3 linked regions of the Homo sapiens genome follow. The protein of the gene in region 3 purifies or fractionates together with the protein of the main gene of each other region. This does not show direct contact. Each region holds a gene or a part of one and is shown on either strand. Other genes may lie near its edges. The genes, in order: NADK, CREB3L2 and RALGPS2.

What was found.
Region 1: the proteins of RALGPS2 (region 3) and NADK purify together in Homo sapiens (affinity purification with mass spectrometry, with the first as the bait; one large-scale study listed by BioGRID). This does not show direct contact.
Region 2: the proteins of RALGPS2 (region 3) and CREB3L2 purify together in Homo sapiens (co-immunoprecipitation; one large-scale study listed by IntAct). This does not show direct contact.

Annotation. Positions count from the first base shown.
Region 1 is NC_000001.11:1,761,467-1,765,112, reverse strand, and holds part of NADK (NAD kinase), read left to right. Parts: intron 1-3,077; coding exon 3,078-3,161; exon of another isoform or gene 3,162-3,220; coding exon of another isoform or gene 3,221-3,222; intron 3,223-3,646.
Region 2 is NC_000007.14:137,883,575-137,887,220, reverse strand, and holds part of CREB3L2 (cyclic AMP-responsive element-binding protein 3-like protein 2), read left to right. Parts: intron 1-1,718; coding exon 1,719-1,818; intron 1,819-2,099; coding exon 2,100-2,226; intron 2,227-3,646. UniProt on the Homo sapiens protein: Transcription factor involved in unfolded protein response (UPR).
Region 3 is NC_000001.11:178,723,637-178,727,382, reverse strand, and holds the start of RALGPS2 (ras-specific guanine nucleotide-releasing factor RalGPS2), read right to left. Parts: upstream 2,140-3,746; 5' UTR 1,964-2,139; exon of another isoform or gene 1,099-1,963; intron 638-1,098; exon of another isoform or gene 1-637. UniProt on the Homo sapiens protein: Guanine nucleotide exchange factor for the small GTPase RALA. May be involved in cytoskeletal organization. May also be involved in the stimulation of transcription in a Ras-independent fashion.

The sequences.
Region 1 (3,646 bases), about 180 Mb from region 3:
GAGGCTGGGTCCTTGCCCAGGTGAAGCTGTGCCCTTGAAGGGGGATCCTGGCCCATGGACACCTGCCTGGCGCACGTTCCCAGGTGCCAGCACAGGCACAGGGTGCCACCGTGTTTCTCTATCTGTCTGTATCAGCACAGAACCATCTAACTGGCGCCTACGCTGACCCTTGATGTTAGACTGAAGCGCACTTGGAGAGGAAACTTTTTTTTGAGACTGAGTCTCGCTCTGTCCCCCAAGCTGGAGTGCAGTGGCGCAATCTTGGCTCACTGCAACCTCCGCCTCCCAGGTTCAAGTGATTCTCCTGCCTCATCCTCCCAAGAAGCTGGGATTACAGGCGTGCACCACCATGCCCGGCTAATTTTTGTATTTTTGTAGAGACGGGGTTTCACCATGTTGGCCAGGCTGGTCTTGAACCCCTGACGTCAGGTGATCTGCCCGTCTCAGCCTCCCAAAGTGCTGGGATTACCGGTGCAAGCCACTGTGCCTGGCCTGGAAACATTTGCTCTACAGAAGTCACTGGGGTGTGAGGGGACATCCCTCTTGGCTCTGCTTGTTTTGAGAGGCGAAGGCTGGGGGGTTCTGCACTGTGAGCAGGGCTGGTGGAGGCAGAGTTATGAGCGTGGCCTTGGGCGGGCCCAGCCCTCTCACATGTTGGGCAAGTGGCTCCCTCCTGTGCCAAGAGTGCCCACAGCGCTCACCCTTGCACAATGCTGCTTGGGCAACAGCGCCCCGGGCTTTGCATGACGGTGGCCGCACAAGCACAGCTGTGATGGTGCCTGGGGATGGTGCTCTCGGTTCTGGTGATGGTAAATGTGGTGAGTTTTAGGTGGAAGCTTGCCAGAGCCGGCGCTGCCTAACAAGGATCACGACTATCAAATGCAAGGGGGGCTTTTTGGTGAAAAGTAGTCTTAGAAAGCATGTTGTCTTACCCAGTGAGATGGGAGAGCCTGTAGCGCCTCTGACGTGGTGGCAGCCGTGGAGAAACAGGCTACTCCCACGTTTTCTGTCTACAGAGTCGCTGCCTGAGCCAGGAGGCTACGAGCGCTGGTGGCTGCCTTCATCCCGCAGGCACCACGTCACCACTCAGCCTTTCTCAGATGCCTCGTTGCCTCGTTGTCAGTGGGGGTCGTTGTCCTGTACCTCCAGGCCACCCCAGCGCAGTGACTGCGTGAACAGAATTGCTTTGGGGTTTTATTTTTTTTTCCTGTGGGTTCTTTGGCATAATGCACCATTTCTGTTGCATTCTGAACCTGATGACAGCAGCCCTGGGTCAGAGGTCGCCTCCATAGTGAGTGACAGGCGCCTTCAGGGTGAGGTGGGGGAGGAGGTAGCCAAATACGCCCAAGCATAGCCTGTCCTTGGGAAGGAAACATTAAATCCCAACACCCACTTCGAGAAACATTGTTTTCCGCAATAATCTTTTCAGTTCGTAAGTAAGTAAAATTCTTTTGTAATGTACTTCGTTTTCTTCTTCTTTTTTTTTTTTTTTTTGAGATGGAGTCTTGCTCTGTCGCCCAGGCTGGAGTGCAGTGGTGTGATCTAGGCTCACTGCAAGCTCTGCCTCCCGAGTTCAAGTGATTCTCCTGCCTCAGCCTCCTGAGTAGCTGGGATTACAGGCATATGCCACCACGCCTGTCTAATTTTTGTATTTTTAGTAGAGATGGGATTTCACCATGTTGGCCAGGCTGGTCTCGAACACCTGACTTGAGGTGATCCGCCCACCTCAGCCTCCCAAAGTGCTGGGATTACAGGCGTGAGCCACAACGCCCGGCTAATTTTTTGTATTTTTGTGTAGAGACAGGGTTTCACCGTGTTAGCCAGGATGGTCTCAATCTCCTGCCTCGTGATCCGCCTGCCTTGGCCTCCCAAAGTGCTGGGATTACAGGCGTGAGTCACTGCACCCGGCCTGTACTTACCAATTTTTAAAAGGCTGAGGTAAACAAGTCCGTGACCACTGATGGCCACGCCTGTGTCACCTGTGGAGCAGCCCTCAGGGCACCACGGCTCTCCTGGGGTTGTCTGGCCCTGCGAGGCAGCGGAAGGCCGTTCTTCTGCATTGGGACTTGAGGATTTTGTTGGGCCGTTGCCTGGCCAGCTGTGTGCAAGTTTTCTGAGTTTGTGAAGGGACTGGGAGGCTCCCGGGCACCTAGGACGAGGGCAGCCTCAGTGCTGGACCCTGAGGAGCACAGCGGTCCTGACAGCATTCTCCCCAGGACGCGTGCGGCTGCCACAGCCCCTGGCTGGGTGATTTAACTGTGACCTGGCCATGTTTAAATCACTAGGAAAGTTGTTGAGCCGTTCATCTGGCGTCTTTTATTCATTCATTCATTCATTCATTCATTCATTCATTTTGAGACAGAGTTTCACTTTTTTCAGCCAGGCTGGAGTACAGTGGCTCGATCTCGGCTCACTGCAACCACCACCTCCTGGGTTCAAGCAGTTCTCTTGCCTCAGCCTCCTGAGTAGCTCGGACTGCAGGCACACGCCACCAGGCCTGGCTAATTTTTCTTTTTTTAGTAAGGATGGGGGTTTCACCATGTTGGCCAGGCTGGTCTCAAACTCCTGACCTCACGTGATCCACCCACCTCAGCCTCCTGAAGTGCTGAGATTACAAGTGTGAGCCACTGCGCCCGGCCTACGTCTTTTTTATTGACATGAGTTCAGAGTGAACATTTGTGCTAGAATTTTAATCTAGACGATTTAGAGATGAGATGTTGTCTCAGGTTTTGAGTCCCAAATGCAGATCTAGAGAGGGGTCCTGGAGACACTGAGGAATTCTGATCCCAGGCTGGCCCTGGCCCTGGCATTTTCCTTGTTTGGGCTGAAGCTCTCCCCGGCTTGGGTCATGATCTGAGCGGCGCGTGGGCATGCGTGCTCCTCACAGGTGCCGCTCCAGTGCAGCCATGGACCTGGGCAGAACCTTCCAAGGGCTATTGTGTGGCTGCTGGGCAGATGGAGTTGGCATCTTTCAAATTGCATGTATGCCTTACCGTGTAACCTCCTCTGTATCTGTGTCTGTCACTGCATGTCTGGTTTCAGGCCCTGGTGGCTCTGACACTGCCCTCTCCCCACAGGAGGACACGCTCTCTTCATGGGCCATGCCCGGTGACCACTTTTGGACCAAAGGCCTGTGTGCTGCAGAACCCCCAGACCATCATGTGAGTGCTGGGGCCCCAGGACGGGGGGTTCTTGGAAGGGAGAGAACCCCTAGACCATCATGTGAGTGCCGGGGGCCATGGGATGGGGGAGTCCTCGGGATGTGTGTGGAGTTGTGGGATCGCTGTGTTGAGGAAGATTCTAGCACTTCATGTGAGAAGTACATGTTTAGGTCATTTAAACAAAAAGCCACATGGGCGTCCTCCCTGAACCCCCTGAGTGCAGGCATCCGAGCGGGGGCTCCCCAGCTGTGGCTTTTCCAGTGGCTTTGAGAAAGTGGACGGCAGGCGAGCCGGGGCCTGGAGACCGGGTCACAGCCCGTGGGTGTGGCGGCTTCCACATGAGATCCTCAGGGCTGCCTTTTTGTTTCTTTAAGAGTGAGTGAGAATTCTGGGGTGGGTTGCGTTTGCTATTTGATGGTTCAGTTTGTCAACACATTCTGCCTGGAGGCCCGTCATAGTGTCATGGGAAAAACGCAACAGTGATC
Region 2 (3,646 bases), on a different chromosome or scaffold from region 3:
TCTAGCACCTGAATGCTATTCGGGGGTAGACTGTGGTGAGAAGCAAGTTATCTGCGAAAGCCCACAGCATTCTGTGAACAAATGATTTGATGATGTTTTCCAGTGAACTTATGTGGCTGTCTAACATTGTTACATCACAGCACACATTTTCCGAGAATCCTTGAGACCCAAGAGAAAGCATCTGCTCATAAAATCTTTCCACTTTGCCATATGCACTGGGTTTGGGGGTGGGGGATGAGGATGAGGAGGAGCTTCAACTCTTTACACCACTCACAGGGAACTCTTCCCGGGTGCTCTAACTCAGGAGGGTGTGTTGTCAGATCCTTTTCTATGCCTTGCAGTGTTCAGAATTTGCAAAGAATTTTACCATCTGCTCTGTGTGCTGATGTCACACAGAGCAGAGTATATAAGACTGTTCTTATCCCTCAAACTTTGCCTTTTAAGGAGAGGCACAGTTGTCCAATTTTAGGGATAAAACGTCTCCTTTTTTTTTTTCTGCTCTTGCTCTCTTGTCTTTTTCCTGGAGAAAGGCTAGAATCTGTTTCAAAGGATGGTTTTAAAGACCCTTGACTCTGGGCTTGAGGGTCCAGTTGAGCAGGCATCTTTGTTCTTTCATATGTTGGCTTCGTTTCCTGACTCTGGAGGTGCTGTGAGCGTTTAAGAACCACAGGCTTGAGCTGCAGGTGGCTGTTTGCCTCTCTGCCTTAAACAGAGCCGTTCTTGTTTTTCCTCTCCTTTCTCTCTCTCTCTTCTAACCTGCCTGTGAATGCCTGTTACTCTGTGTTGGCATTTCCAGTCACAGCCCCCACCTCTGGCCTTTCTCTCTCTCTTCTAACCTGCCTGTGAATGCCTGTTACTCTCTGTTGGCATTTCCAGTCACAGCCCCCACCTCTGGCCACTCCTTCTGTTGTTCTCTGCTGGTCATTTTTTATTTTTCCTTCTCTTTGCCTTTGTCCCTTTTTTATGTTTTTGTCAATGTTTCTCATCTCTTGCTTAAATGAGTTCTTCTTTTAATCGACATTTTCTTAGTCTGTTCAGGTTGCTATAACAAAATGTAATAAACGAGGTCACTTACAAACAACAGAAATTGATCTCTTACAGTTCTGGAGGCTGGGAAGTCCAAGATAAAAGTGTTGGGAGATTCCGTGTTGGGCGAGGGCCTGCTTTCTGGTTCACAAAAAGCAGCTTCTTGCTGTGTCCTCTCATAGTGGAAGGGAAGCACTCTAGTCTTTTCAGCTCCTTATAAGGGCACGAATCCCATCAATGAGGGCTCCATTTATGACTTAATCATCTCCCAAAGGTGCTGCATCCTAATACCGTCACATAGAGGACTGGGTTTTAGCATAGGAATTTAGGAGAGACACAACCATTCTGACTTTAGCCACCATCCAATCAGAGTGTTCCTTTTCCTTTGTTCTCAATCGCTGAGAAACAAGCCACAGCCTGTCAGGGGTAATGTGGAGGCAGTTACCTCTAACTCAGGGCAGTGCAAGAACAGGACTTTCAAGTGTGAAGGCTGATTCTGAGCCCCAGTGAGCTCTGTGACAATGGTGCTAGAAGGTACTGGTGTTCGTATCTTCTTCCAGAGGAAACTGTCCCTTGGGGCTCTGTTGAAATGCAGGCACAAAGGCACGGCGGCCTTCTTGGGTCACATGGAGAGATCAAAAAGCATCTCTTCTCTGTCAGACTCCCCTCACGGCTGTTGTTATCATTGGCAGGACTCTCCTTCAGCAACTCCAGAAGCTTCAGACTTTGGTGATGGGCAAGGTTTCTCGAACCTGCAAGTTAGCTGGCACGCAGACTGGCACCTGCCTCATGGTGAGCTTCCCAGCAGGGTAGCACAGTGACCGCCCCTGGCCTGGCCCCTGTCTCCCCTCTCCCTCCACTTGCCAAGGCCAAGTGCTGTGCTGTAGGAGAAACCACATGGAGGAACTCCACTCTGAGGCTGTTCCTCGGTGAGGCACTCTGGTGATGTGACTGGTGGGTGCAGTCCACTGGCCTGAAGAGGAGAGTCTGTGTCCCTGGGTATAAAGCTGTGCTGTCCAGAGGCTGAAGTCCACAGCCCCTCGTGTTCTCTCTCCCCTCTTTCTCTCCCACAGGTTGTGGTGCTGTGCTTTGCCGTTGCATTCGGCAGCTTCTTTCAAGGCTACGGGCCCTATCCTTCTGCCACCAAGATGGCTCTGCCCAGCCAGCATTCCCTGCAGGAGCCCTACACAGCCTCCGTGGGTAAGACAGCATGTGGCAAGTTGGGCAGGGTCTTGTTTTATTTCCCTAGAGCTGGGTTTCTCAGTCTTCCAAAAGGAATCTTCTGTGAAAGTCCAATGTTTAAAAAGTGGTAAAAGTGGAGCTTCTCCCTTTGAAGAGGCAAGTGGGGGTTCCCCTGGGGCCCCTCATCCACTGGACTGCGGCATCACTGGGAATTCTCCAGAGCTTGACAGAGCACAGTTTGCAAACTGCTGTTCTAGACTGTGTTCCCTGATCCATTCTGACATCTAATTTTTGAGTTCTGATAAGGGAGAGGGAAGCAGATGAGGGAAAGAGTCTGTCGCTTTCTGTGACGTTTTAAGAGAACTGCTGTGTTTCTGCCTCCACTGAGTGGAATTGTATGAGTAATGTAATGCAATGTATATAGTAAGGGCTTGTAAAGTGAAATTAAATAAACAGCAAGGTCAGGGCCGGGCGTGGTGGCTCACGCCTGTAACCCCAGCACTTTGGGAGGCCGAGGCGGGCAGATCACGAGGTCAGGAGATTGAGACTATCCTGGCTAACACTGTGAAACCCCATCGCCACTAAAAAATACAAAAAAATTAGCCGGGCGTGGTGGCAGGTACCTGTAGTCCCAGCTACTGGGGAGGCTGAGGCAGGAGAATATTGTGAACCTGGGAGGCGGAGTTTGCAGTGAGCCGAGATCGCACCACTGCACTCCAGCCTAGACGACAGAGCGAGACTCCATCAAAAAAAAAAAAAAAAAGAATCAGCAAGGTGAGGAGTTCAAGACCAGCCTGGCCAATATGCTGAAACCCCGTCTCTACTAAAAATACAAAAATTAGCTGGGCATGGTGGTGCATGCACCTATAGTCCCAGCTACTTGGGAGGCTGAGGCAGGAGAGTGGCGTGAACCTGGGAGGCGGAGGTTGCAGTGAGCCGAGATCGTGCCACTGCACCCCAGCCTGGGCGGCAGAGCAAGACTCCATCTCAAACAAACAAACAAAAAGAATCAGCCTGCCTTCCAAAACCTTATGCCCAAGATCTAGAGAATATGGGGACTCCGGTGTCAGATAAGAAGCGTATGGTGTTCTCACCTAGAAATAAAGGGATGGTGAGTAAGGAATACACACACAAATTCACACCTACACCTATAGGAATGAGCATGGGGTTAGGCAGTACAGTAGTCCCCCCTTATCTGAGGTTTTGTATTCTAAGCTTTCAGTTACCTGTAGCCAATGAACATACCTGCAGTTACCTTAAAATAGCTGAATACACTATAGTAAGAAACACTACCTGCAGCCAATAAAAATACCTGCAGTTATCTGAAAATAGCTGAGTACACCACCATAAGAAATTTTGAGAGAGAGAGGCCACATTCATGTAACTTTTATTAGAAGATATGGTTAGAATTGTTCTATTTTATTATTATTGTTAATTT
Region 3 (3,746 bases):
TAATTCAATGAAAAGTGAAATAACGCACAGTGGCGCATGCCTGTAGTCCCAGCTTCTTGGGAGCCTGACACGGGAGGATCGCTTGAGCTCAGGAGTCTGAGACCAGCCTGAGCCAAATAAGGAGAACCTATCTTAAAAGGAAAAAAAAAAAAGTGGAATATAATGGGAAAAACGCACATCTTACCGTTCAAAAATTATGCTGAATTTTAAAAAGAAAAAATGAACTACGCTTAAAATAAATACACTGAAATTGTTTATCCCAAATGGCATTAATGCCCTTACATTTTGATATTTAGATCTGCCTCAAAAGACCTTTGAAGCTACATGATAAACTTCATGCCTACAAAGCTTGAGTTAGAGGTTATCTTTGTTAAAATAATACTGTTTGGATGCTCAGTTTTGGAAGTTTCCTCATAATTCTAAATTAAGATATTTAGCCGTAAGAGTAATACACTTATGTGTATGATTCTATAGCACTTGTTCTATAGCACTTGTACAAGCATAATGATCTTGAGTGGAACAGGCTTTATAATGAGCAAGCTATGATCTGTCTAACAGCGATACTCTGCAAACACGGGCTGAAAAGTTTCCTAAAATTCTGATGGTCATCTTCAAAGAAACTTGAACAGGAATCGATCTAATGGTGGACACAGAAAAATACCCAAGTCAACTCATGAACACTGGTAAGAAAAGGCTCTCTATAGCAACTAAAGTGTTGGGGAAAAAAAATCCAGGGAGCATAAACGATAAAGCTCAATTAACTGCTGCTTGTGTGATTCCACTTTATGGTCTTAAATACACAGTAGGCATTAGATATTTCTTTTGGGGTTTTTTTTTTTTAACAGAAATTTAGTATTTCAATTGCCCCTCCTCCACAGCTAACATCAGTGCCCTTTCTTCCTCCTCCCTTACCCCTCCCAACTCAAACAAATTAACATTTGTACTAGGTACCTCCTATCAGCTCGCAGCTTCTTCCCAAACACGCCCACGTACACTGAAACTGGCTTGCGTCTACACAACACACAGCTACAGGAAAAGAGCTTCGAGGGGGGAGCTGGGGCGGGGGGTTAATAATTCGCTCCGCACAGGTTTACGGCTATTTTCCAGAAACTAGTTCCTCGCTCGTGGCTCGCGTTTCTTCCAAATCACCTCAAAAGCACGGTGTTTATGAGCCTACCTAATCCGATACTGCAATGGAATTCCGGATATTTGCAGACAGATCTCCCGGCTTTGCAAGTGTTTGATGAGATACGTTCGGAATCTCCTTTTTTTTCTAGAGCCCGGTTCCAGGCCGTAGAGCAAGCCGACCTGGGGCTGCGGCCCCTGCCCCACACCCGGCCCGCGCGCCCGGCCCGAGGCCAGCACAGGACGCAGCCCCTCCGGGGCCGGGGCTGGCGGGGGCCGCTCGGGCTGCGGGCCGCTCTGCAACAGGTCACCCTGACCGCGACTCCGCGGGTTCGCGGGCGGCCAACTCTGCGGCCAGGCTTCTGGGCGCAGCCGCCAGGGCCAGGGGAGGGGGTGTGGCCCGGCTTCTGCTGGTCCTGGCTCCGAGGTCCGGGATCGGGCTCACCTGAAGGAAGACTGAGGCGCCGCTGGGCGCCAGAACAGAGCGGGCGGAGGCTGGGGGCTTCCGCCACCCAAGAGGGAGAGCGAGGCGGGTTCAAGGGGTCGCAGCGCCCCCGGCTTCAGGACGGCGCCCCCGAGCGGGGACCCCACGGCCGCTCCGACTCTGAGAACCCGCGGCCGAGGGAGGCGCGCCGCCCAGCGCCCTTCTCCCTCAGCCTCAGCCCCAGCTCCGCAGCCCCCTCCCTGCGCGCAGGGCGAGCAGCCCCGGGGCCCGCGGCCGGGAGAGCCACACTCCGCAGCGCCGCCGCCGCCATTCCCCGCGCCGCCCGGGGGGCGCCGCGTACCCACCCTCCCTCCCTCCCTCCCCCGCACCGCCCCGCGGCCTGAGCCCACCGACCTGTGCAGCCGCGGCCGTCGCCTCAGAGGACGGAAAGACGATGCCGGCCTCACGCTTCACCGCCACGGCCGCCGCCGCCTAGAGTAGCACTCGTCGACCCGAACAGTCACCGTCTCTCATTCAGCGCCCGCAGCAGCCGCCGCCGCCGCCGCCGCTGCCGCTCGGGGGAGGAGAGTGAGCTGGAACCACCCCGTCCGCGCCAGGGGTGGGGGACGAGAGCGGACCTGGCGGGGGCGCGCGCCAAGCGGGCGGGGCGGAGCCGCGCGCGCGCGCGCACCAACGGAGCGCGCTCGCGGGGGCTCTGAGAGCTGCAGCCGTCAGGGTCTTAACCTCGCGCTTCCCGCCCGCAGCTTTTCGGCCCCGCGGAGCCCAACTGCCGCCGGTGATCGGTGCCCGCAGCGCGCGCAGCCATCCGCAACCCCACCGCCCGGCGCCTGCTGAAAGGAGGGGCTCCCACCGGCCAAACAACGGGGGGGGGAAGGGGTAGGAGGATGGACAGGTGGGGCGTCCGCCACCGCCTGGCCACCCGCTCCCGGAACGCGGCCCTCTGTGAAATCCGCCGTGATGTCTGTGGCCTTCAGCGCCGGGCTCTTCACCTTTAAGGCCAGAGAACAAAGTCTGGAAGCACTTGGCCCCAAGATCAAATATCCAGCCCACGCCAGCGGTGTTTTTAGAAGTCACTGAGGACAAATGAGGGGGCTCCCAATGTGGAGAGTCACCCCACTGTCTTAGATAAGGTCATAAATTATGGTGATCAACATCCTCACACATTAAGATTCGGGAAGTGTTAGAAGTAGGCCTTTGTAAGATGTTACGCAGGGTACTACCCTTGACTTAAGGAGCAAATGACAGAAATTGGGCGGAAAGGTGTTGTTTCAGAGTCTACTAAATGGGTGGCCTACTTAAAGCTAGCACCATTTGATGCAGTGTGACTGTTAACGGAAGGTTTTAAGTGAGCCGCCTTTGTATCTGCTGTCATTAGACCATTTGGAAATGGATAATTATTTGATGATCTGCAGTTCTTTCTCTAGGCAATGTGCAGTAGAATGTGGAAAGAATACTATGTACCAGCATTAAGTGTAAAACATGAAAGGACCAATAATTCACTATTCCCATTTGGTTTCTTTCTTCCCTTTAATAACCGCTAAACAGAACTGATTAATCTTGAACGTTGAAGATTGCTAATTATTTCCTCCTTTGATTGCCTTCTGTCATAGCCCTTTTACTCTAGTTGGGGACGCTAGAATGCCCTTCAACCTCCTTCTCTCAAATAGGGTTACTTTAAAGCACCCCAACGCAAAGTTAAGTCAAAAAGAAAAACAGCGAGGATAGGCAACAAAGTTCGTAGTGTTTCATTTTTATTCCATTTTACTTTCAAAGAAAGTCTTGAATCATGACGAAATCACTAGAAGAAGTAGAGCAATCAAAAGAAGAAAAAAAGCGTTCCCCCCCACCCAATATTTCAAATGACAAGAGTCCAAAAAAGAAAAGAAAAAGGAAGATGATTGGTAAAAAGGAGGGAAGTGCATTATGTATACAGAAAGTTTTCGCATAGATGTTAGTTGCTTCAAGTCCCAAATAAACAACAACTAAATGAATTAGCACTTGGAGGAAAAACCCCTTCCAGTTATTGAGTTGGGTAAATGTTTAGTCTTCTTAAAGTGTTACTAAGAGATTAAGGAAAATGTCGTTGGCTATATGCCAACAATAATACATGCAACATACATACCATTATCACACATAATTAACTGCTCTTAAGAAATATGAAAACTGAGGAACGGAA